Linked DNA regions of Homo sapiens. The protein of the gene in region 3 interacts with the protein of the main gene of each other region in a pairwise test. Each region holds a gene or a part of one and is shown on either strand. Other genes may lie near its edges.

The links. The genes of interacting proteins can lie anywhere in the genome.
Region 1: the proteins of SFR1 (region 3) and RNF40 interact in binary tests that used the Homo sapiens proteins (3 or more experiments, as listed by UniProt).
Region 2: the proteins of SFR1 (region 3) and NMI interact in binary tests that used the Homo sapiens proteins (3 or more experiments, as listed by UniProt).

The regions. Positions count from the first base shown.
Region 1 is NC_000016.10:30,765,322-30,772,321, forward strand, and holds part of RNF40 (E3 ubiquitin-protein ligase BRE1B), read left to right. Parts: coding exon 1-6; intron 7-103; coding exon 104-178; intron 179-841; coding exon 842-961; intron 962-1,057; coding exon 1,058-1,237; intron 1,238-1,419; coding exon 1,420-1,555; intron 1,556-2,572; coding exon 2,573-2,694; intron 2,695-2,781; coding exon 2,782-3,209; intron 3,210-3,297; coding exon 3,298-3,415; intron 3,416-3,516; coding exon 3,517-3,666; intron 3,667-3,864; coding exon 3,865-4,077; intron 4,078-4,153; coding exon 4,154-4,279; intron 4,280-6,511; coding exon 6,512-6,652; intron 6,653-6,767; coding exon 6,768-6,869; intron 6,870-7,000.
Region 2 is NC_000002.12:151,279,669-151,286,668, forward strand, and holds part of NMI (N-myc-interactor), read right to left. Parts: intron 4,623-7,000; exon of another isoform or gene 3,631-4,622; coding exon of another isoform or gene 3,364-3,630; intron 3,287-3,363; coding exon of another isoform or gene 3,281-3,286; coding exon 3,200-3,280; intron 2,376-3,199; coding exon 2,280-2,375; intron 1-2,279. UniProt on the Homo sapiens protein: Acts as a signaling pathway regulator involved in innate immune system response.
Region 3 is NC_000010.11:104,118,009-104,125,724, reverse strand, and holds the start of SFR1 (swi5-dependent recombination DNA repair protein 1 homolog), read right to left. Parts: upstream 3,555-7,716; 5' UTR 3,542-3,554; coding exon 3,529-3,541; exon of another isoform or gene 2,960-3,528; coding exon of another isoform or gene 2,761-2,959; coding exon 2,639-2,760; intron 2,012-2,638; coding exon 1,601-2,011; intron 213-1,600; coding exon 21-212; 3' UTR 1-20. UniProt on the Homo sapiens protein: Component of the SWI5-SFR1 complex, a complex required for double-strand break repair via homologous recombination. Acts as a transcriptional modulator for ESR1.

The DNA of each region.
Region 1 (7,000 bases), on a different chromosome or scaffold from region 3:
GAGCAGGTGGGGCAGGGGTGCTGGGGCAGGTGAGGCAAGGCTGGGCCCTTGGGCCTTAGCTCCTCCCCTCTACATCCATTGCCTGTCTGTTTTCTCTCCACAGCTTAACTCTGGCTACTATGTATCTGGGAGCTCCTCAGGCTTCCAGGGGGGCCAGATCACACTCAGCATGCAGAAGGTGAGCGGCGTTTTCCTCCCACCCCTTCTCACAACCTCTTCTCTGTTGCACTCTTGAAATTCCCCTCAGGACAAAGGACAAACATCCATCTCTGAGGCCCTTCCTGGTCACTCCTGCTGCTCTTTTTTTCATGCATTCATATACTTGTTGAGTAGATTTTTGAACACTTAGTGCTAGGCACTAGGCATATTGGCGAGAACAAAATAGAGGTCAAAACTTTCATGGACCAGACAAGAAATAAATAAAAGAATATATCTTTAGGTTCTACTTGTGGTAACAGACAAGAAATCAGTAAAATAGCATATCAGTGTGTTATGAGTACCACAAAGATAAAGCACAGAAGAGAGAGCTAAGAGTGAGTTGGAGTCAGTTGGCATCTGGTGGTCACTGTGCCCTTTTTCCCTTTATTAGCACTTTAGGCCTTTCTGGAATGCCTTCCGTGACTCCCCATCAGTTAAGAGCCTTAGTTCCCAGCACCGACCATGCAGTATTGAATTTTCTCCCATTTTTCTGGGAGCCCTTAGGAAAGTACTTGGTTTGGGGTGTCAGAATCGATCATTGCCCTGCACGGGGTGCTTGGGGTGGAGTGTATGCTGGGGATGTAAGGGAGGCCTGCTGCCACGTCTGGCCCTGCCTCCCATGGCCCTGCCTCCCACTCCTTAGTTTGAGATGCTGAATGCAGAGTTAGAGGAAAACCAGGAACTGGCCAACAGCCGTATGGCAGAGCTGGAGAAACTGCAGGCCGAACTTCAGGGGGCTGTGCGGACCAATGAGCGCCTCAAGGTGGGCTGCTGTAGGGGCTGAGAGGTCCTGGGCCTGTAAGGGAGGGACTGAGCCCTGAATCCTGTTGCTGATCCCATTTGGGCATCCCTGCCCCAGGTGGCCCTGCGGAGCCTTCCTGAGGAGGTAGTGCGGGAGACGGGGGAGTACCGCATGCTGCAGGCCCAATTCTCACTGCTCTACAACGAGTCTCTGCAAGTGAAGACCCAGCTAGACGAGGCTCGGGGCCTGCTGCTGGCCACAAAGAACTCCCACCTGCGACACATCGAGCACATGGAGGTATGGCCCTGGAACAGGCGTTAGGGCTGGGCTAAGGGCCAAACCGTTAGTGTTGACGTGTTTGTGCCTTCCGAGGCCCTGTGTGCCAGCCAGGGGTCCCTGGGGAATAGATTCTTCCTAAGATACTGAGTCCTGAGGTGGGACCGAGGGGCTGTGTGGGTCCTTAACACATCAACCCACAGAGCGACGAGCTGGGGCTGCAGAAGAAGCTACGCACAGAGGTCATTCAGCTGGAGGACACGCTGGCCCAGGTACGCAAGGAGTATGAGATGCTGCGCATCGAGTTTGAGCAGAATCTGGCGGCCAACGAGCAGGCGGGTATGTGGTGAGGATAGGGCGGAGGTGGGGCCTTATCTGGGAGTGCTGGGCCCTGGTGTGGGGCTGCTGCTTATCCAGATGCAAGAGGCTAAGGCCTTTTTTTTCACAGAGCCTCGGCTTCCTATGCAAAACAGGGCCTGCACTGCTTGGCTCCCAGGCACAGTGAGGGTCCGCCAGCTGGGGTGGCTGATGGAGCAGGCACATGCAGAGTCTGAGCTGTCAGCCCTGTCCTCATTCTTCTGGTCTGATGACGTCTCTGTCTCTCAGATACTTGTGTTACAAAGATTTATCAAATGCCACCTCTGAGCCAGGCTCTGTTCTAGGGTTTGGGGTTATGCCAGTGAACAAAACAGAATTCCTGCCATGTGGAGCAACATTCTGATAGAAGACAGACTAGAGGAAGACGAACTAGTAGAAGAAAAATGGAAAATGTGTTAGCTCTTGACAGATAGGAAAGTAAAGCAGAAAAGGAAGATAGGAAGTATCAGGAGAAAGGGTGTTGCAATTTTGAATAGGAGGCCAGGGAAATGTACTGGGAAGGTGATATTTAAGAATCTAGAAGAAGTTAACTAACTTTTGTGAATGTTACAGTTACCTTCTCTATTAAAGGGAATTGGATGTATAAAAAAAAAAAAGAAAAAACCTAGGCCAGGTGTGGTGATTCATGTCTGTAATCCCAGCACTTTCGGAGGCCAAGGTGGGAGGATCACTTGAGGCCAGGAATTTGAGACCAGCCAGGGCAACAAAGTGAGACACTGTTTCTATTTAAAAAAAAAACAAAAAACCCCACATATTCTATATTAGCAAAAATCGTATGAATAGGCAGTGTCAAGTTAATTTTGGGTGAGTTTCCTTGAAGTCAGCATTATTTACTTTGATGAGTTCATGCTCCGTTGAGGCCGCAATGTTCCCCTCCTGCACAGTGGGAGTGATGGCATAGCCTCTTACCCCACTGAGGGGTTGGAGTCCTAACCCAGGAACTGGTTCTGACACCTTTACTTGCTGATGCTCCTCCAGGGCCCATCAACCGTGAGATGCGCCACCTGATTAGTAGTCTTCAAAACCACAACCACCAGCTAAAAGGGGACGCCCAGCGATACAAGCGGAAGCTTCGAGAAGTACAAGCTGAGATTGGCAAGGTGAGAAGGGGCCTGCCTGGGAAAAGGTTTGGCTAGACTCCAGTGAACACCATCTGACTTCATCCCTCTTCCTCTCTGCCTTTGCAGCTCCGGGCCCAGGCCAGTGGCTCTGCCCACTCCACCCCCAACCTGGGCCACCCAGAGGATTCTGGCGTCAGTGCCCCAGCCCCAGGGAAAGAGGAGGGTGGGCCAGGCCCTGTCAGTACCCCCGACAACAGAAAGGAGATGGCTCCAGTGCCTGGCACCACCACTACTACCACTTCAGTGAAGAAGGAGGAGCTGGTCCCCTCTGAAGAGGACTTCCAGGGTATAACCCCTGGGGCCCAGGGCCCTTCCTCCCGGGGCCGAGAACCTGAGGCCAGGCCCAAGCGGGAGCTTCGGGAACGGGAAGGTCCCAGCCTAGGACCTCCACCTGTAGCCTCCGCTCTCTCAAGGGCTGATCGGGAGAAGGCCAAGGTGGAAGAAACCAAGCGGAAGGAATCAGAACTCCTCAAGGGTCTCCGAGCAGAGCTCAAGTGAGGCTCTGTTCCTGTCTCCTTCCTGACCCTGCCAGGTGGCCTCCAGTCCCACTCACTAAGACTTCCTCCTGTACCTTCTTGCCAGGAAGGCCCAGGAGAGCCAGAAGGAGATGAAACTGCTGCTGGATATGTACAAGTCAGCGCCCAAGGAGCAGCGGGATAAGGTGCAGCTCATGGCAGCGGAACGCAAGGCTAAGGCCGAGGTGAGGGCAGCTGGGGCTTGTGGGGCATTCAGAAAGGCAGAGCAGAGTCCTAGCTCAGCAGGAAGCAGTGTCAAGAGAGTTTCTTCTTCCCTGTGCTATAGGTTGATGAGCTGCGGAGCCGCATCCGGGAATTGGAGGAGAGGGATCGAAGGGAGAGCAAGAAGATCGCGGATGAGGATGCCCTGCGGCGCATTCGGCAGGCAGAGGAGCAGATAGAACACCTGCAGCGCAAGCTGGGTGCCACCAAGCAGGTGCGGCCCATGTGGTGCCCTCGCGTCGGAGCGCAGGGAGTTCCCTTCATACCCTGTTTGGTGCCTCTAGTGCCTGCAGGACCTTGATGATCTGGGTCCCCTCTGTAGTTCTTTGCTTCGCTGCGTTTTCCCATGGTTCCCCCACAGCCATCCTGTCCACTTCCCACGTTCCATCTTGTCTCTGCCCACTTGCTGCAGGAGGAGGAGGCTCTGCTCTCAGAGATGGATGTGACAGGTCAGGCTTTTGAGGACATGCAGGAACAGAACGGGCGGCTGCTACAGCAGTTGCGGGAAAAGGATGATGCCAACTTTAAGCTAATGTCAGAGCGGATCAAGGCCAACCAGATTCACAAGCTGCTGCGGGAGGAGAAGGATGAGTTGGGCGAGCAGGTCCTTGGCCTCAAGTCCCAGGTATGGCCGCCGCCAGCTTGCAGACTGGAGCTGGAGAGGTGGGGGTCATGGCCCTGAGTCCTCCTCTGGTCCTTAGGTGGATGCCCAGCTGCTGACTGTGCAGAAGCTAGAGGAGAAGGAGCGAGCCTTGCAGGGCAGCCTCGGGGGTGTGGAGAAGGAGCTGACGCTGCGCAGCCAAGCCCTGGAGCTCAACAAGCGGAAGGTGAGGCTGGGCCAGGGGGACACACAGCTTGGGCTGCTGGCTCACCTCCTCACCTTCCGGTTCTGCTCAGAGCACCCGATGCAATAGCCTGAGGTGAAGCCAGGCTGTCACAGAACAGCTCACACATATTGAACATTTACATGTGCCAGACCACATGCTGAGTACTTGACATGCTTGGTCACATTTCAGTCTCACTAATCCTATCAAGATGGTGTTTACGGGCGTGGTGGCTCACGTCTGTGATCCCAACACTTTGGGAAACAGAGGCGGGAGGTTTGCTTGAGGCCAGGAGTTGGAGACCAGCCTGGGCAACATAGTGAGACCCCATCTCTACAAAAAAATTTTAAAATTAGCTGGGTGTGCTGGTGCACGCCTGTAGTCCCAGCTTCTCGAGCAGGCTGACAGGTGAGAGGATCACTTGAACCCAGGAGGTTGAGGCTGCAGTGAGCTATGATCGCACTGCACTGCAGTCTGGGTGACAAGAGCGAGACTCTGTCCCTAGGGAAAAAAAACAAAAGATTTTTGAGTTGGAGTCTTGTTCTGTCGCCCGGGCTGGAGTGCAGTGGTGCGATCTCGGCTCACTGCAACCTCCGCCTCCCAGGTTCAAGCAACTCTCCCAACCTCAGCCTCTCAAGTAGCTGGGATTACAGGCGCGCACCACCACGCCTGGCTAATTTTTGTATTTTTTTTTAGTAGAGACAGGGTTTCGCCATGTTGACCAGGCTGGTATCGAACTCCTGACCTTGTGATCCACCCACATTGGCCTCCCAAAGTGCTGGGGTTACAGCGTGAGCCACTGCACCTGGCTGGATTTTGTTTTTAGCCTCGTTTTATAAATAAGGAAACTGAGGCTCAGGGAGGTGGATTGTTCTGCTCAAGAGGGAGTGGCCCTAATATTTGGGTCCAAGCCTCCTTGACTCCAGGCTCTACCTTCTAACCACTCGCTGGTGAACTGTAAAGTGGGGATGATGTTCTTTGTCACATAGTTGTATTAAATAGAAGAAATGTCTAGCTTTGGCTAAAGGCTTAAGATTAACATTGATTTCCATTTCCTCTGAAGCTGTTTTCTTCTCCAGTTAGTTCATTCATTTAAGCAGTATGTTTGTGGTTTTTTTGTTGTTGTTTTTTTTAGACGGAGTCTAGCTCTGTTGCCCAGGCTGGAGTACAGTGGCTCGGTCTCAGTTCACTGCAACCTCCGCCTCCCAGGTTCAAGCGATTCTTCTGCCTTAGTGTCCCGAGTAGCTGGGACTACAGGAGCCTGCCACCTCGCCCAGCTAATTTTTGTATTTTTAGTAGAGACGGGGTTTCACTGTGTTTGCCAGGCTGGTCTCAAACTCCTGACATCGTGATTTGCCCGCCTTGGCCTCCCAAAGTGTTGGGATTACAAGTGTGAGCCACTGTGCTTGGCCCATTTAAGCAGCATATTTTACATCCCTGCTATGTACTAGGCCTTGCGCTGATTGCTGTGGAGACATTGGGAACAAGAAGGTCCCTGCCTTCCAGTCAAAGCTGGAACTTCAGGTCTTGGCAGGCAGAGCAGGCCAGTAATCCCCCAAATAAAATAGTGCATGTCACAGTAAGCCTTGTGCAGGAATCTGAGGTGCTGTCAAAGAAAAATAGGGGAGCCTTTTAGGAGGTGACACTTGAGCTGAGGCCCAGGGGAGCTGCATGTGTGGTGGGGAAGTTGAGGGGAGCAGAGAGGAGAGCCTTGTGAAAGCTCAAAAACCAGACAGCAGGCCAGGCGTGGTGGCTCACGACTGTAATCCCAGCACTTTGGGAGGCCGAGGCGGGCAGATCATGAGGTCAGGAGATCTAGACCATCCTGGCTAACACGGTGAAACCCCATCTCTACTAAAAATACAAAAAATTAGCTGGGTGTGGTGGTGGGCGCCTATAGTCCCAGCTACTCGGGAGGCTGAGGCAGGAGAATGGTGTGAACCCAGGAGTCGGAGGTTGCAGTGAGCTGAGATCGTGTCACTGGACTCCAGCGTGGGGGACAGAGTAAGACTCCGTCTCAAAAAAACAAAAAACAAAGAAACCCCAAAAAACAGCATCACACGGGAGGAACTGGAGAGGGAGAACAGGAGGGGAGGGCTTAGGGCTCAGGAGGCAGGAGCAGCTCCAGGGCAGGTGTCACTGGGGCCCTGGACAGAAGCATTGGTGGGCCGTGACTCCACATGCCTGAGTCACCAGGCTCAGACCAGTGCCTCCTTCCTGTTCCACCCTACTCAGGCTGTAGAAGCCGCCCAGCTGGCCGAGGACCTGAAGGTGCAGCTGGAGCACGTGCAGACTCGGCTGCGGGAGATCCAGCCCTGCCTGGCAGAGAGCCGGGCTGCTCGTGAGAAAGAGAGCTTCAACCTCAAGAGGGCTCAGGTGTGTGCAGGGGTGAGGGGCCAGGCCAGGGTGGTCCACGGTCACGGACCTATCCTGGGGGCAAGCGGCTCAAGGTTGAGGACCCTTGCCCTTAGCCAGGCCTCTCCTGCCCCAGGAGGACATCTCACGGCTGCGGCGCAAGCTGGAAAAGCAGAGGAAGGTGGAGGTCTACGCAGATGCCGACGAAATCCTCCAGGAGGAGATCAAGGAGTACAAGGTGGGGCTGTGGGCCAAGTTGTGCCCTATCCACCTGAGAATTGTAGATGCAGGATTGCTGAGACTAGTGGAGAGTCTGGGGACCCTGGAAGTAATGTAGGGCAGCAGAAAGTGGGCAGCACAGTGGTCACA
Region 2 (7,000 bases), on a different chromosome or scaffold from region 3:
AGACAGGGTTTCACCACGTTGGCCAGGATGGTCTCTTGACCTCATGATCTGCCTGCCTTGGTCTCCCAAAGCGCTGGGATTACAGGCGTGAGCCACCACACCTGGCCCAGAATTAGATGATGTTAAATTTATCAAATTTAAAAATTCCACCTTCCCCAACACCTGCCCATCAACTTTTTAACCATTACCACAACTTAGGTTTATAAAAAATGAGAAGGGACAGTATCAACAGAAATTGTAAGCTGAGGCTACACAGGTGGCTCACACTCGTAATCCCAGCACTTTGGGAGGCCAAAGCAGGCAGATCACCTGAGGTCAGGAGTTTGAGACCAGCCTGGCCAACATGGTAAAACCCATCTCTACTAAAAATACAAAAATTAGCTGGGCGTGGTGGCAAACGCCTGTAATCCTGGCTATTCAGGAGGCTGAGGCAGGAGAATCGCTTGAACCAGGGAGGCGGATGTTGTAGTGAACCGAGATCGCACCATTGCATTCCAGCCTGGGCAACAAGAACAAAACTCTGTTTCAAAAAAAAAAATTGTAACCTGAAAGATAAAGGTAGGTGGTTATACTTAGCTGCTTAGAATTATTGGGATTAACAGATTCATATAACTACACATAAATGCACAAATGAGATAGATGCTTGCATTTCTATTGCCCATGGTTATTTTACATGCTGAAAATAACACAGAGATTAGAAATATTCAGTGAGTCATTCAATTTAATCTTACATTTATTCTTTGCCTTTATGCATAACTCCAGTGGAACTTCTGATTACGGTAAGGCTGACATCAAAACAGTCTACAATGTCTGAGTAAAGGCAGAGTGTTACCCAATAATGCAGAAATACCCAGTATATGCTGAGGAGCAAGGGCTTTCTGAAATTAGAGTGAGAAAGCTTGATTCTATTTCTGACCACACTGCGACAGACAGCAAATTTACTTAAGCTCTCTGATCACAGGTTTGGTCCTCTGCAAAGTGGGTCGACTAGGGCTGGCCGGTTTCTAAAGGCTCTTTGAGTTATAAGACTGCATGATTCTAGCTCCAGTCTGAGAAGTAACCAGAATCTTAACAGAGTCTTCTGCACAAAGTCACCCATCTCATAAACACAGAAAACCTCACTTCCTGATATTCAATATCCTATCTCCCACTTCAGAAACAAGAAGTGTCAATGCTTTAATTTTTTTTTTTTTAGGCGGCGCCTCGCTCTGTCGCCCAGGCTGGAGCACAGTGGTGTGATCTCAGCTCATCGCGACCTCCGCCTCCCAGGTTCAAGCAATTCTCTGCCTCAGCCTCCCAAGTAGCTGGGATACAGGCACCCGCCACCATGCCTGGCTAATTTTTCTTTTTTAGTAGAGACAGGGTTTCACCATCTTAGCCAGGCTGGTCGTGAATTCCTGACCCCATGATCCACCCGCCTCAGCCTCCCAAAGTGCTGGGATTACAGGCATGAGCCACCGCGCCCAGCCTCAATGCTTTAATTTTTTAACATCTGAGTTGTTAAGAAAAAAAATGGGTGAAAATTATGTACAATTAAAATACAGGAAAATTTAGGAGAGAATTTAAATGGTGAGGATTAATATATGTCCAATTTTTTGAACCGTGAAACTCATCTAAATTACCAAAGCACCTTGGATGAGAAGAATTATAAAAGAACTCAGTGAGAAAAGCCAGAATTTGATCCAACAGTAATTTGCTAATGACCATCTTTTTTTGGTAAATTTTATTAATTTTTTGTTTTTGTAAATTTATTAAAGTGTACGTAAATAATAGAAAAATGCATGTATCATTAAGTACAGCAAGATGAAATTTTACAAAGCTAACACACGTGATTGGCACGCAGATGATAGGCAGGACATGACAACACCCCAGAAACCCCCTTGGGTTCCCTTCTGGGTCTTACCTGCTTCCAAAATAACCACTGTTTTAACTTCAAACATCCTGCTTTTGCTTAATTTAAAGGGAAGCATATGGTATGCCCTCTTCTGTCTTTTTTGTGTTAACATTGTGTTTATGAAACTCATTTGTGTTGCTGCATGTCATTATGATCTGTTCATTCTCATTGCTGTGTAGTTTTCTATCATATGACTATACCCCAATTCACTAATTCGTTCTACTATGAAGGAATCATTGGGTTGTTTTCCATTTTGAACTATTACAAATGGTGGTGCCATGGATGATGATAAGGTTTTAAAAATGAATTTTGTGTAATTAAAATGCTTTTTCCAAAAACCATGCATCCATCAAAAATGTAGTATATAAAATAATTAAGAGAGTACCTGGAATTCTTTGGTAGCCTCTTGTAACTCCGTTTCAAGCTTTTGGATCTCCTTCTTTAGTTGAATATTTTTCTTTGTAATTTCATCAATTAGTCCCTTAAAAATATCAAATGGTACCAAAGAAAGTAAATAGCCCCTGAACTCATTTTTCCGAATGAACTAAAGACTATAAATTTCTCTCATCCTGACCAAAGAAAGACATTAGACAGTCTCAGAATAAATATGACTATGTGAATAATGCATTTGTTGAATATTTTACATCATCACCTGTCTATTCTAACATTGCCAAGTAGTACTATCTCCATTATATAAATCAGGAAACCACCTTTTACACTAGACCGAAGTCACAGAAAGTTGTATAGTAAGGCAAAGATTGAGATCAGATCTTCTGAATATTACTTCAGTGCTGCATCAACTCCTTTCCTAGCTATTTGTGAGCATGATAAGACTTTTAAATTGCACTGTAATAGCGGACATATTCTGGGGCAGTTTGTTGTTGGTGTTGTTGTTGTTTTTGTTCTTAATTATCTGTGATTCCCATAGTATCGCATAGTACACAGTTACCTTAATGAGCCAGACATATGACCTTGGGGAAGTGGTTTAAGCTACCTGGGCCTCCGTTCCCTCTTGGGGTCTAATGAGATAATTGCTGACTATGCTCTTAACTTGTTGATGCAAATCCAAGAAATGAGGGTGTGAGTGAGAAAGCAGCTAGTGTTGTAAGCCTTATAAGAGAAAGAATAAAAATATGACACTTCTTGTAAGGCTTAAATAACATAATGGAAGTTAAAAATTTTTTTAAAGCCTAACGGCCTCCCAAATTCAAGGTAATGTTGGACAAAGACATACAAAACATGCCTTACTGCAAAACTAATAGATATAAAATAATTTTTAATAATACCCAGTAATTTCCTTTTTACCTTATTTTGTTCATCTTTTATAAATTCATCTGGCGAATGCTCCTTAAGAATTTGTTGTGTGTCATCTTTATCAGCTTCCATGATCCCCTAATATTATAAAAAATAAATATTATAAGCATAGCATATATACACAAATTTAAGAACAAAGAAATAAGAACTTTTACCCTTTTATGGAAGAAACATCTCTTCTTTGCTATATCTTTTTTTCCCATCATCAAAGGCTTTATTATCATATGGCTTATATCCAAACAAAGTCTGTATTTTAATAACTCCTTTTTTTTTTCTTTTTTTGAGACAGAGTCTCTCTCTGTCGCCCAGGCTGGAGGGCAATGGTGCGATCTTGGCTCACTGCAACCTCTGCCTCCCAGGTTCAAGTGATTCCCCTGTCTCAAGCCTCCCAAGTAGTTGGGATTACAGGTACCTGCCACCATGCCCGGCTAATTTTTGTATTTTTAGTAGAGATGGGGTTTCACCATGTCGGTCAGGCTGGTCTTGAACTCTTGTCAAGTGATGCACCCCCCTCGGCCTCCCAAAGTGCTGGGATTACAGGCGTGAGCCACAGCACCTGGCCAATATTTCAAATAACTTTCACACCTATAATATATAAAAAGATTCTAAAAATCCTTTGCTTTTCAACAAAATAATATATAGAAAGTAATGAACATTAATGTTCCTTTGTAGTTCACATTCCAACCATAATATCATGCTCCATTTTAAATGAATACTATTTTGGTTTTCCAACGTTTTTCAAAGTTTTTGATTAAAATATTTAATTCTCCCTATTGTTCTCCCCAAATGTAAACAAAGTCAAGAGGCCTCCAACATATGCTTTCTCTACGCAGGTGTTCTTACCTGAAGCTTTCACTAACTCTCCTGCTGGGTCCATAAACATGGATTGGGAAGAAATTATATGTTTATTTCTAATAACCTCTAATTGAAGCTTAGCATTCTCTTCAATTATGAATATGGTAACAAACTACAGTAGTATTCACAGCACCTGTGATAGTCACCAATAGAAAGCACAGATAGTTTCATAGAATATTGTTGCAGATATGCTAAAATAGTTTGTGTTTAACATTGCTTCTACATTAGTTACTAACCTCACCACTAGGTCTTGTAATATATTGTAATACATTGATATATATCACTATATCAAACATTTGCTTTTTAAATATTCTGATAACCATATTTCAATACAATTGATTTCTGGCCGGGCGCGGTGGCTCATGTCTGTAATCCCAGCACTTTGGGAGGCCAAGGCGGGTGGATCACAAGGTTAAGAGTTTGAGACCAGCCTGGCCAACATGGTGAAACCCCGTCTCTACTAAAAATACAAAAAAAATTAGCTGGGCGTGGTGCCAGGTGCCTATAATCCCAGTCATATTTCAATACAATTGATTTACTTTGTAATTCTATGTATTTTATTTTATGCATTTAATTTTTTTTTTAGATAGGGTCTCACTTTGTTGCCCAGGCTGGAGTGCAGTGGGGCATGAACACGGCTCACTGCAGCCTCAACATCCCTGACTCAAGTGATCCTCCCACCTCAGCCCCCCAAGTAGTTGGGACTACAGGTATGTGCCACCATGCCCAGCTAATTTTTGTATTTTTTGTAGAGATGTGTTTTCGCCAAGTTGCCTAGACTGTCTCGAACTCCTGGGCTCAAACAATCCGCCCCCCTTGGACTCCCAAAGTGCTGGGATAAGCCACCATGCCTGTCCCCACAGGCATTGACTAAATGTTTTTTTTTTGGAGAAAGGCCCATAGGATTTGCCAAGCTGGCAAAGGAATCCATGGTACACAAAATTTAAGAACTCTTGCCTACATATGAATTTACTGAGATGAAAAACTCTCAGATCAAAAATGGGACAAAGGATATCATGATTCTATGTTTTTAGATACACATTAATAAACAGTCTGCCATATAATTTTCCAAGATTTCAAGTGGCTAAATTCTCAATATTCTTGAAAAAGAAATAAAAGACATCTATTCCTCCTTAAAAATAAAATAGAAGACTAGCAAAAACTTAGCTATGTCTTAGTTTAATGAACACAGGAGTGTCAAAAAAAGAGGAGAGTCGCATAACACCCAGATCTTGGTTTCTAATAATATTCTTCAATAAAAGAAACCAGGGCTCATTGGAGCAATGGCTGATTCTAGGTCTGGGGTATAAAATATACAAAATAAGCCTGGAATATCTTGTAGTGCCAGAAAAGTAAAAAGCACTAAAACACATGCACAAACACATACAATATGATGGGAGTATGTGAAAGGGACATGGGGACCCAACTGAAAGGGCTCCAGTGGCCAAAAGTACATACACAGAATTGATCAAGTAAGTAAATATATGGAGGATAATAGGAGCCAAGTTTTTCACCGTCAGAGAAGATAATTATAAATATGGAAATGGAGAAAACAAGAATAAATACTGTTGATTGGAACTAGATTTCAATGTAATCCTGCAGCTGTGGTTTCTGATTGATGATTGAGATAGATAGATAGATAGATAGATAGATAGATAGATAGATAGATAGATAAATAGACAGACAGATAGAAATACCTATGTGTGATTACCCAGGCATGGTGGCATGCACCTGTAATCCTAGCTACTCGGGAGGCTGAGGCAGGAGAATCGCTTGAAGCCGGGAGGCAGAGGTTGCAGTGAGTCAAGACTGCGTCACAGCACTCCAGCCTGAGCGACAGAGTGAGACTCCATCTCAGAAAAAAAAAAAAAAAAAGCAATGCCTATGTGTGTATCTTGTGTATATACAAATACATATATACCCTAGCTCTGTCTGCTGAGAAGGCCTGGGAGAGCAGATACAACCACAATGAGCAATGAGCACACTCAGCACCCAGACTTTGGTTTCTAATACTATTCTCCACCAAAAGGAACCAGGACTCTTTAGAGAAATGGTTGATCCCAAAACCAGGATAGAAAAACTGCAAGATGAGCCTGGGACATCTTATGATGCCAAAAAGCAAGGAAATGCTTAAAGAATGATGATGACATGTTGAAACGACACAGAATCCACCTTGAGATGGTTTTCGGTGGCCAAATCTGGGGATAAATTAAAGATTAAAATACATAATGGTAGTAATGATTAAATCTGTTGATTAAAGTAAAAAACTGAGTCCAGATAAATTAGAAATTTTGATGAAGAAAGGAATTTTTAGTTAGCTTCAAAATAGTTCCCCACAAAATGTTTATTAATTTCAAAGAAGAAAAGAGTAACTTTATACTGGAGAAGTCTGGCAGACATCAACATAATGAGATAATCAAAGTAAATAATGGAATAAATCAAAATAATGTAACATATTACAAGGTGCACTGAGAACACAATGTAACTTCGACGACAGTCCTGCCAAAGATGCATAATCTGAATCTAAGCATGAGGAAACATCAGACAAACTCAAATTGAGGGGTTCTACAATACAACTGCCCTGTTCTCTTCAAAAGTTTCAAGTTCAGAAGGCCAAGGAAAGACTAAGAAATGTCCATACTGAAGGAGACTAAAGAGACCTCACAACTAAGTAGAAAGCATGATCCTCAACTGGATCCTTTTGCTATCACTGGGGCTCAGAAACTGATACCCGGAAGTATGGCATTTTGACATGGTGAACTGAAGATGGCTCAAGGTCTCTCTGACCTCCCCCTCCTCCTCCTCTGTCTCTCCCAAAGCACAGGATGAAGGTGCACTGATGTTCTCCTATCTGCCTAAATGTGGGACCTGCCAGAAAACAGAACAATTACCTCTAGTCCCTTCCCTGAGTTTTTAATTCTGAATTCATATCACAGA
Region 3 (7,716 bases):
TCTGGAGCAAAAATCAGGAATTAAACATCTATAAATTCTTCTTCACTTCTGTTATAGTGTAGTAATTTATCATCTAACCCATAGTGGTCTATCAATTGAGTAAGGCTTAGTTTCTTGTTCTCTTCAGACACAGCTGACTGCAACTCATAAAGCAAGAGCTGGCTACAGCTTCTCCACTTCTTTATTAACAACTGTAACTGAGACAGATCATTCTGAAACAGAAAAAAAAACATGTATGTCAATAACTAGTCATGCTAGTTCAACTTAATTAAAGTTGTTAAATTAGTGGATGTGCAGGTTTAAAGGCTAACATACACAGGGATGAATGGGACTTCTATCTAGGAAAAAGTAGGATGGTCATATGTAGAATGGTTACAATGTCACTCAACTTGAGTTCTATGGCTATTTTGTTGGCTTAAGCTCTGGGCCATCTTTATGATAAGGGAAAAATCAAATCATTAAATAGGGCCAAAACTATGTCAAGAAGCAATAATACAGGGAAAAATCTACTGTATTACAACTGTACTTTTTAAAAAATGACACTATGCTTTCCACTAAATGTTGCTATGAACCTAAAACTGCTCTTTAAAATTACAATATTCAAGTTAAAAATATTTTTTTAGGCTGGGGATGGTGGCTCACACCTGGGATCCCAGCACCTTAGGAGGCCAAGGTGGGAGGACTGCTTGAGCCCAGGAGTTCAAGACTACACTGTGCAAAATAGCAAGACTCTATGTCTACAAAAAAATAATTTTAAAAAATTAGCCAGGTGTGATGGCACATGTCTGTAGTCCCAGCTACTAGGGAGGCTGAGTTGGGAGGATCACTTGAGCCCAGGAGTTCAAGGCTGCAATAAGCTATGACTGCACCACTGCCCTCCAGGCTGGGCAACAGAGACCATGTCTCTAAAAAAAGAATGAATAAATAAATAAAATATATTTTTTCAACATTCAATACTCCTAAATTTTATTTTTTAAAAACTCCAGAATTTCAAGAGAACAAATGAGATACACTATCCCATCACTTATTCCACGTAATTCAGGGAAAATGAGCTATTGCATATATATGAATTTTCCAGGTAATAAAGATTATTCTCCTTCCAAGTACCCAAGTTCTATTTAATTCAACCTATATGGGTTGAAATCTAAAATATAATATATATATATATATATTTTCTCAAATAAAATGGCTGAATCACATTAATTATTTGGGGGAGACACAAGATCATTACTAAAAATACCTTTTATTGTACTCTACAGCCCATTTTTAGTTTTACTAATTCACTGTCAGCTTTCACTTCTGTTCCCATTGTACTTGCATCTAACATTTAATACTTCTAATATTGCTGTGGGCTAGAAACTAGAGAGAAAAGTTTAACTGCATATTAAATCAGAGCTGAGATTCTTAAAAAGTTTTACCTGGTGTTTAAGGGCCTTTTCTACTCTAAATCTGGAGTTGAATTAAAGCTGTTGGAAGCCAGGTTTCTGAATATTTGGCTTATTGCTTATTATGGTAAAAAAAAAAATTCTATTTTTGAAATTACTTTCCTGTAATTTATGTAAAAATAAAAATTATGCAATGGTCCTGAAATTCTTCTCACCTTTGATCTATACATTTTGACTAGTTTTAGCCTCCGAAGAAGGTCTTCTTTCTCCTGAACCTGCTTCACCAATTTGGCTTTTTCAGCGTTTAATCTTTGTTTAGGAAGCTTCTCACTCACAAACTCATTTTGGAGAGCACTGCATGATCCAGAATCAAGTGACTGAGATTCACAGACATTGAGATTCTTCAAAGTATTTTTCAAATTTGTATTTTCTTCAAATTCACTGTCTATATGTTTAAAACTTTCTTGAAATTCCAAACAGTTTTCCTCTGTGGAAGATGCTGGTTTCTCTGAAAAGGTCTGATCATTTTCTTCACTCTCTACTTTAAGACGTTTCACCACATTGTAAGAGGAATTAAATGAAAATCTTGTTTTCCTTAATCTTTCTCTAAGTGTTGCACTCATAGGCTATAAAGAGCACAAAACATTAAAAATGTGAATCAAGAAAAACATTCTTAATGTCAATAAATCACCAGAAATAAAGTCCTTCCATTTCTATGCTAGACACCACTAGATGGCTTTCTGTCTCCACATCTAAAGAAGGCATCACAAAATGACTTTAATTTCTGGAAGCTCCATTTGTTTTATTTCCTTTTTACTTCAGCAAGATCAACACCTTTCCAAAAGTGTTGAGAAGTTTATCCCAGTAATCAAGGAACATTTGTTCAGTAACAAGCACATGCCTGATAGTACTCCAGGTGCTTCAGAATTACAGAGTAAGGAAAAGACCTAGACTCTGCCACTAAAGACCTTCATAATAATATTGCACAGATGCAAACTTTCTCCATCTGGAGTATTGTAATAACCTAATCTGAAACTAACTGAAATGAATTCATTCAAGAGGAAAATATGGAAGGGGGCTGGTGGGTGTCATATATGTCACCTTAGAAGAAAAACAAAATTATTTAATAAAATGTCTACTTATTTATGCTACACATTATGTTAATTAACAACCTTCCGTAGAATTTAAACCACCACTGCCACAATACTTAGAAACACATAATGGATCCACTGGAAGAACAAAGATTTTCATACTTGTTTTCGGGAACTATTTGTATAGGGAGATGATGGATTCGCAGAGGCCTGAGGAGTGCTAGGTAAAACCACAGCTGAGTCTGACGGACTTTCCATCTTGAAAGTGAAATCTTGGTTTTTCTCTAAAAAAGAAAAATTATAAAATAATCGAATTAACCACACCTCTCTATAGTCGACTTTTATCAAATAATATATTGTATTGGTGTACAAAGCATCCACAAGTAAGCCAGATATTTCTTCTAATTTCACTTTGTAATTCATTCTTGCTCTTTTTGCAGTTTTCCATTTACCTTCCCACATAGGGACCACTAAGTTTTTCATGATACATCAACCAGCTAGTATCTCATAGTCACAAGACTCTCCTTGTTTTCGTTTCATCCACCAAAATATATTCAAATTCTGCCTTGGAAGTAGGGAAGAATAACAGCTTTAGATAATCAGGAATTCTTTATTATGACAGCTTCATAATTCAAGAAGCTATAGCCGAAACCTTGACTCAAAAACAATAGGACCTGAATGTCACCCATCCTGAACTCTACAAGCTGTGACTAGAACCCGTTACCCTGCCGGCCCGAGGCATAAGAAACACAGCGGAGACGCATTTAAGCCCGTCTGTAGCCTTTTAGTTTAAGCGGCCAACAGGGACTGAAAAGGAGAGTGGACTGAAATTGCTTCCTCCGACAAAGGCATTAACTTTTGAGGGGTAAACTAGGGGCGGGAGTCGTCCCCTCCTTCCCCCCGTTGCAGAAAGCCCACTAGTTCCCCGGAGACCCCAGGCATAAGGTGAGGTTGAGTTCCCCAGACCCGGAAAGGGAGCTCAACTCGACTCCACAGCCGACTCCCGGGGAAGCCCAGGTGTCAGGGATCCCCCCTTCCCCTCAGCAGGGTACCTCCCTCCGCCATTCCCAGCGAGAGCAAAAAAGCGCGCGCACCTGCGGCCGTAAATCGATCCTGTGGCAGGGGCGGGGCCGTGCGGTAGGCGGAAAAGATGCGCAATTGGCCAGATTGCCTGACGCGCGAGGCGCCGCTTCACTCAGCGACTCAGAGCGGTGGGACTGCGCGCGCGCCTCCGCCAGCGGGTGGTTGGGGCGGGGCTTGGCCCACACGATGGGAGGCCCAGACGCATGATTGGCAGAATTAACCGGTGCGCGCGGCTCTCCCCGCCCAGCGCCCGAGAGCAGCGTGAGTGCGCGCGCGCGCGGCCGCGATCCGCAGCAGGTCTTCGGGGCGGGCGAGGCTGAGCTTCGGAATGTTAAACCAATCCTGAGGGGGGCGCGCTTCCGTTCGCGGCTTCTGTTGCCTTATTTTCAACCGCCTTCCCTTCAGGCTTCCTTGTTTTTGTGCGTCTGTGAAGTGCGCCTGAAAGTGCCTCTCCCCACCCCCGCCAGCCCGCCGCCTCCATTCTCTGGCTCCAGTCAGTCTCCTCTCCCTGCTAGTCACAGTGAAGGCTTTACTCAGACGTGGGGCGGCCAGAAGCCGCACGGCTGGCTGCATGTTAGATTTACAGCTTGTGGACTCCCCAGAGGCAGAGACCACAAAAGAACAGCGTTGGTTGGGTTCCAGCCTATTCCAGCGTGGTGGTTCCAGAGACCACAAAAGAACAGCGTTGGGTTCCAGCGTTGGGGTCCACATTTCAAACATGTTAGAAATCTATCCGAGAGTCCCGGCACTTTAGCTGAGCTCATCGCTAGCTTTTTTGGCTGCCGCAAACTCGGCGGTCCCGTCGCGAGGTTTTTTGTTGTTGTTGTAAACAAAAAACCGTTTCTGTACCTCAGTATGCAGGCTCCTTAGCGTGACCTCAAATCTTTTACTCAAATCTGAGGGAAAATGTAGCCCAAGGAAATTTGTTGTGGCGCAACACAGGAAGCAGAACAATCACTACATGAGATTGTGTCGGTCCAAAATTCACGTTTGAGACCGACAGGGCCCTTGCTGGCTACCGGGCAGCAGCATCCTCAGTCGAGAAAATCCCCCCCCCGCGCCCCGCTTCCAGTATGGCGAGGTTCTGTTGCTACGCGACGACAAAGTTAGCTACATTGGGTGGAGCACTGGGTTTAGTGAAAGAGTTGAGTAACTTCTGAGTCACGTGGAAGTTGGGAATTTCCAGGGGCCAGTGTTTTCAGTCCTCTTATTGAATGGCCATTTTAAACATTGATATCGTCTCTTTACTATTAATAACATCTGACAGTAGTGGCTTAGAAGTGGCCAAAAGGGAGTTACCTGAGTCTTAAGCAGTCAGGTATAATAATTACAGAACCTGAGGACTACCTAAGGGAATGATTAGGGGCGTACACGTTACAGTCAAATTGTCTAGGTTCAAATCCTGGCACCATACTTTATGTGCTTCTTAATGAGGTGATTCTGTGCCTCAGTTTCTTCACCTCTTAATATGGGATTGGAGAATTAAATGAGAACTGGTGAGAGGCAGCTGGAACAGAGCTAGGTATCTAGGAAGCACTCAGTAGTTATTTTATATATGCAAGTGTATTCACCATTCCCTAATGGATTTAAGGGAATGTATCACCTTCAGTTTCACCCCTTGATTTATCTCCCACCCCCCAAAAAAGCACATATATTTTAAAAAGATGCTGTGATCTGTAAGATCCCACACAATATAAACCATAAATAGCAGAAAATGTAGAGCCTCACATATGATTAATAATACATATTTCACTCCTAAAATTTTTTAAAATTACATAAGTTAACCCCAAGGAATTTACAAAGGGGAAGAGAGAACTCATGATTTTGTGATAAAGGTGTTACTCACCTCACCAAGCTGCAGGTCTCAGTCTGTACATTTATTTCTCCCTTTACTCATCCATTGGCATCAGTTAATCTCAAAGAAAAAGCAGAATGATTTGTCCTGACACTAGAAGCACAGTGCAGACTCTGCATATTCTTTATACCTCCCGGCATAAGGGCGAGTTGTTTTTATGAGTCTCTAAAATCAGCAGCTCCCAAATCCTTTTACCGTTACAACCTAAGCTTAGAGCTGTGTTTTTCCTGGCTGCAGAAAGGAAAACAACATTTTGCCTTGCAAATGTTCTGACTTGCTTATTATGTGAACTGGTATCTTAAAATGGGATTGTTTGGCCAGATTTTCAAAGAACTTCAGAACATATACTCAGAAAAACCCGTATTTCAGAAATGTGCATTTGTTGATCTACATCTCTGGCTTTCATGCATTATTAGAACTGAATTATCTCCCTGTACAGAAGTTTGTATTTTACTTAACCTTTTCACATAACAAACTGGAAATCCAGTTTCCTCTCGGCTTCATGTCAGAGATCTGGAATATAGCCCCCATACTTTTAATTGTACCTTTAGATAAAGCATAGCGTACATTTCAATGTCTTAAGTGACTTCAAATCTATTAGCCTGTGAAGACTTTGGTGTTTCTGACACAGGACATTGTATGTTTCGTATGAAACTTTTCAGGCAGGAAAAAATACTGGCCCAGTGAGCCAGGAAGCAAAGACTCCTTACCCTGCCATAGAGAACAATTTAAGCAGTAGACTCCAATAATAATAGTAATTAATATCAACTTAAGTCAGGCTTTCCTTGTGTTTTAAAATTTCTTCAATACCCAAGGCTACTGTTGGCTACTTTGTTACTCATCAGGGAGTGGTAAAATGCTTCGTTCTTGTCTGTAATTATTGTTGGTGGGATGATGATATAGACCTAAAATCTTTATGAGGTTTTACAAAAAAATTTTTTTTATTCTTATTCTTGTCTAATGGCAAGAAAAGAATAGTAAATAGTCTCTCAGTCTCTCTCTCTACCTATACAAAAAAGCACAAACACACGTACTTTTTAGCCATAATTAAAATGTTCATTTTAATTTTTAAATTCTCAGCTTTAGTATTATTTTTTAATCTTAACAATAGTCTCAAGCTAACTTAAATTATATTACCATAGACTTTTCTGTATTGACAAAAATTTTTGTGTCATGTAGACATAACTAGTATCCATAGGTTTTTTTTTAAAAGAAACGAATACATAGGCCGGGTGCAGTGGCTCACGCCTGTAATCCCAGCACTTTGGGAGGCCGAGGCGGGCTGATCACAAGGTCAGGAGTTCAAGACCAGCCTGGCCAATATGGTGAAATCCTGTCTCTACTAAAAATACAAAAATTAGCTGGGCGTGGTGGTGGGCGTCTGTAGTCTCAGCTACTTGGGAGACTCAGGCAGGAGAATCGCTTGAACCTGGGAGGCGGAGATTCGGAGATTGCAGTGAGCCGAGATCACACCGTTGCGCTCCAGCCTGGGCGACAGAGACTCCTTCTAAAAAAAAAAAAAAAAAGAAACAAAGATAAAAATATACGCTTCTGAAACTAGGATTAAAATCCACTTGGGTGAGGAATTGTGTAAAATCCACATGATTCTGTTGATTTATGATGTCCATTAGGACAAATTAAACAAACTAAATTTAATACAAATTTATAACACAAGAAAATCTGCCAAATTCTCTTAACTGACTTTCAACACTTCTTATGACATTTGTACATAAGTTGAAAATGCCCTTCAAAAACTCTTCTATGAGTTTCTCTTGCCATGAATTCAAGTCGCATCTTATAGACCCATCCATGGTAAAGTGATGTTTTAGTGCTGTGTAATTTCATAAATTTCTCTTTGAGAATAATTGACAAATATTTCTATTTTTTTCTCTATTACCTTAACGATCTCACATGGAATTCCATAATGTGTAATGGCTGCACTTGTAGAGACTTTGTTACCAAACATTGACCTTTATGATTTAACTATTTCATATTCTTTAGCCAAGATATGCAAGAGAGGGTTTTATTATCAACTTCAAGAGAAAAGGGCCCTTGACATAGCTGTTAGGCATGCCGGAGCGATTGCCTCACTGAGTAGGATGGTTACTTAGAACACGGAGATACGGAGAGGATCAGTATTATTAGCACAATGAAACCTTTCCATCACCAGGCAGCTAGAAAATGTATCTAATAACTAATATTCAGGACAATGTACTAAACAAGAACCTAAAAAGCTCCCTTCACCTGAATTTCCTGTCCTTTTATTCTCCCAGATCTGGCATTTTGTCAAATCCATTAGAGA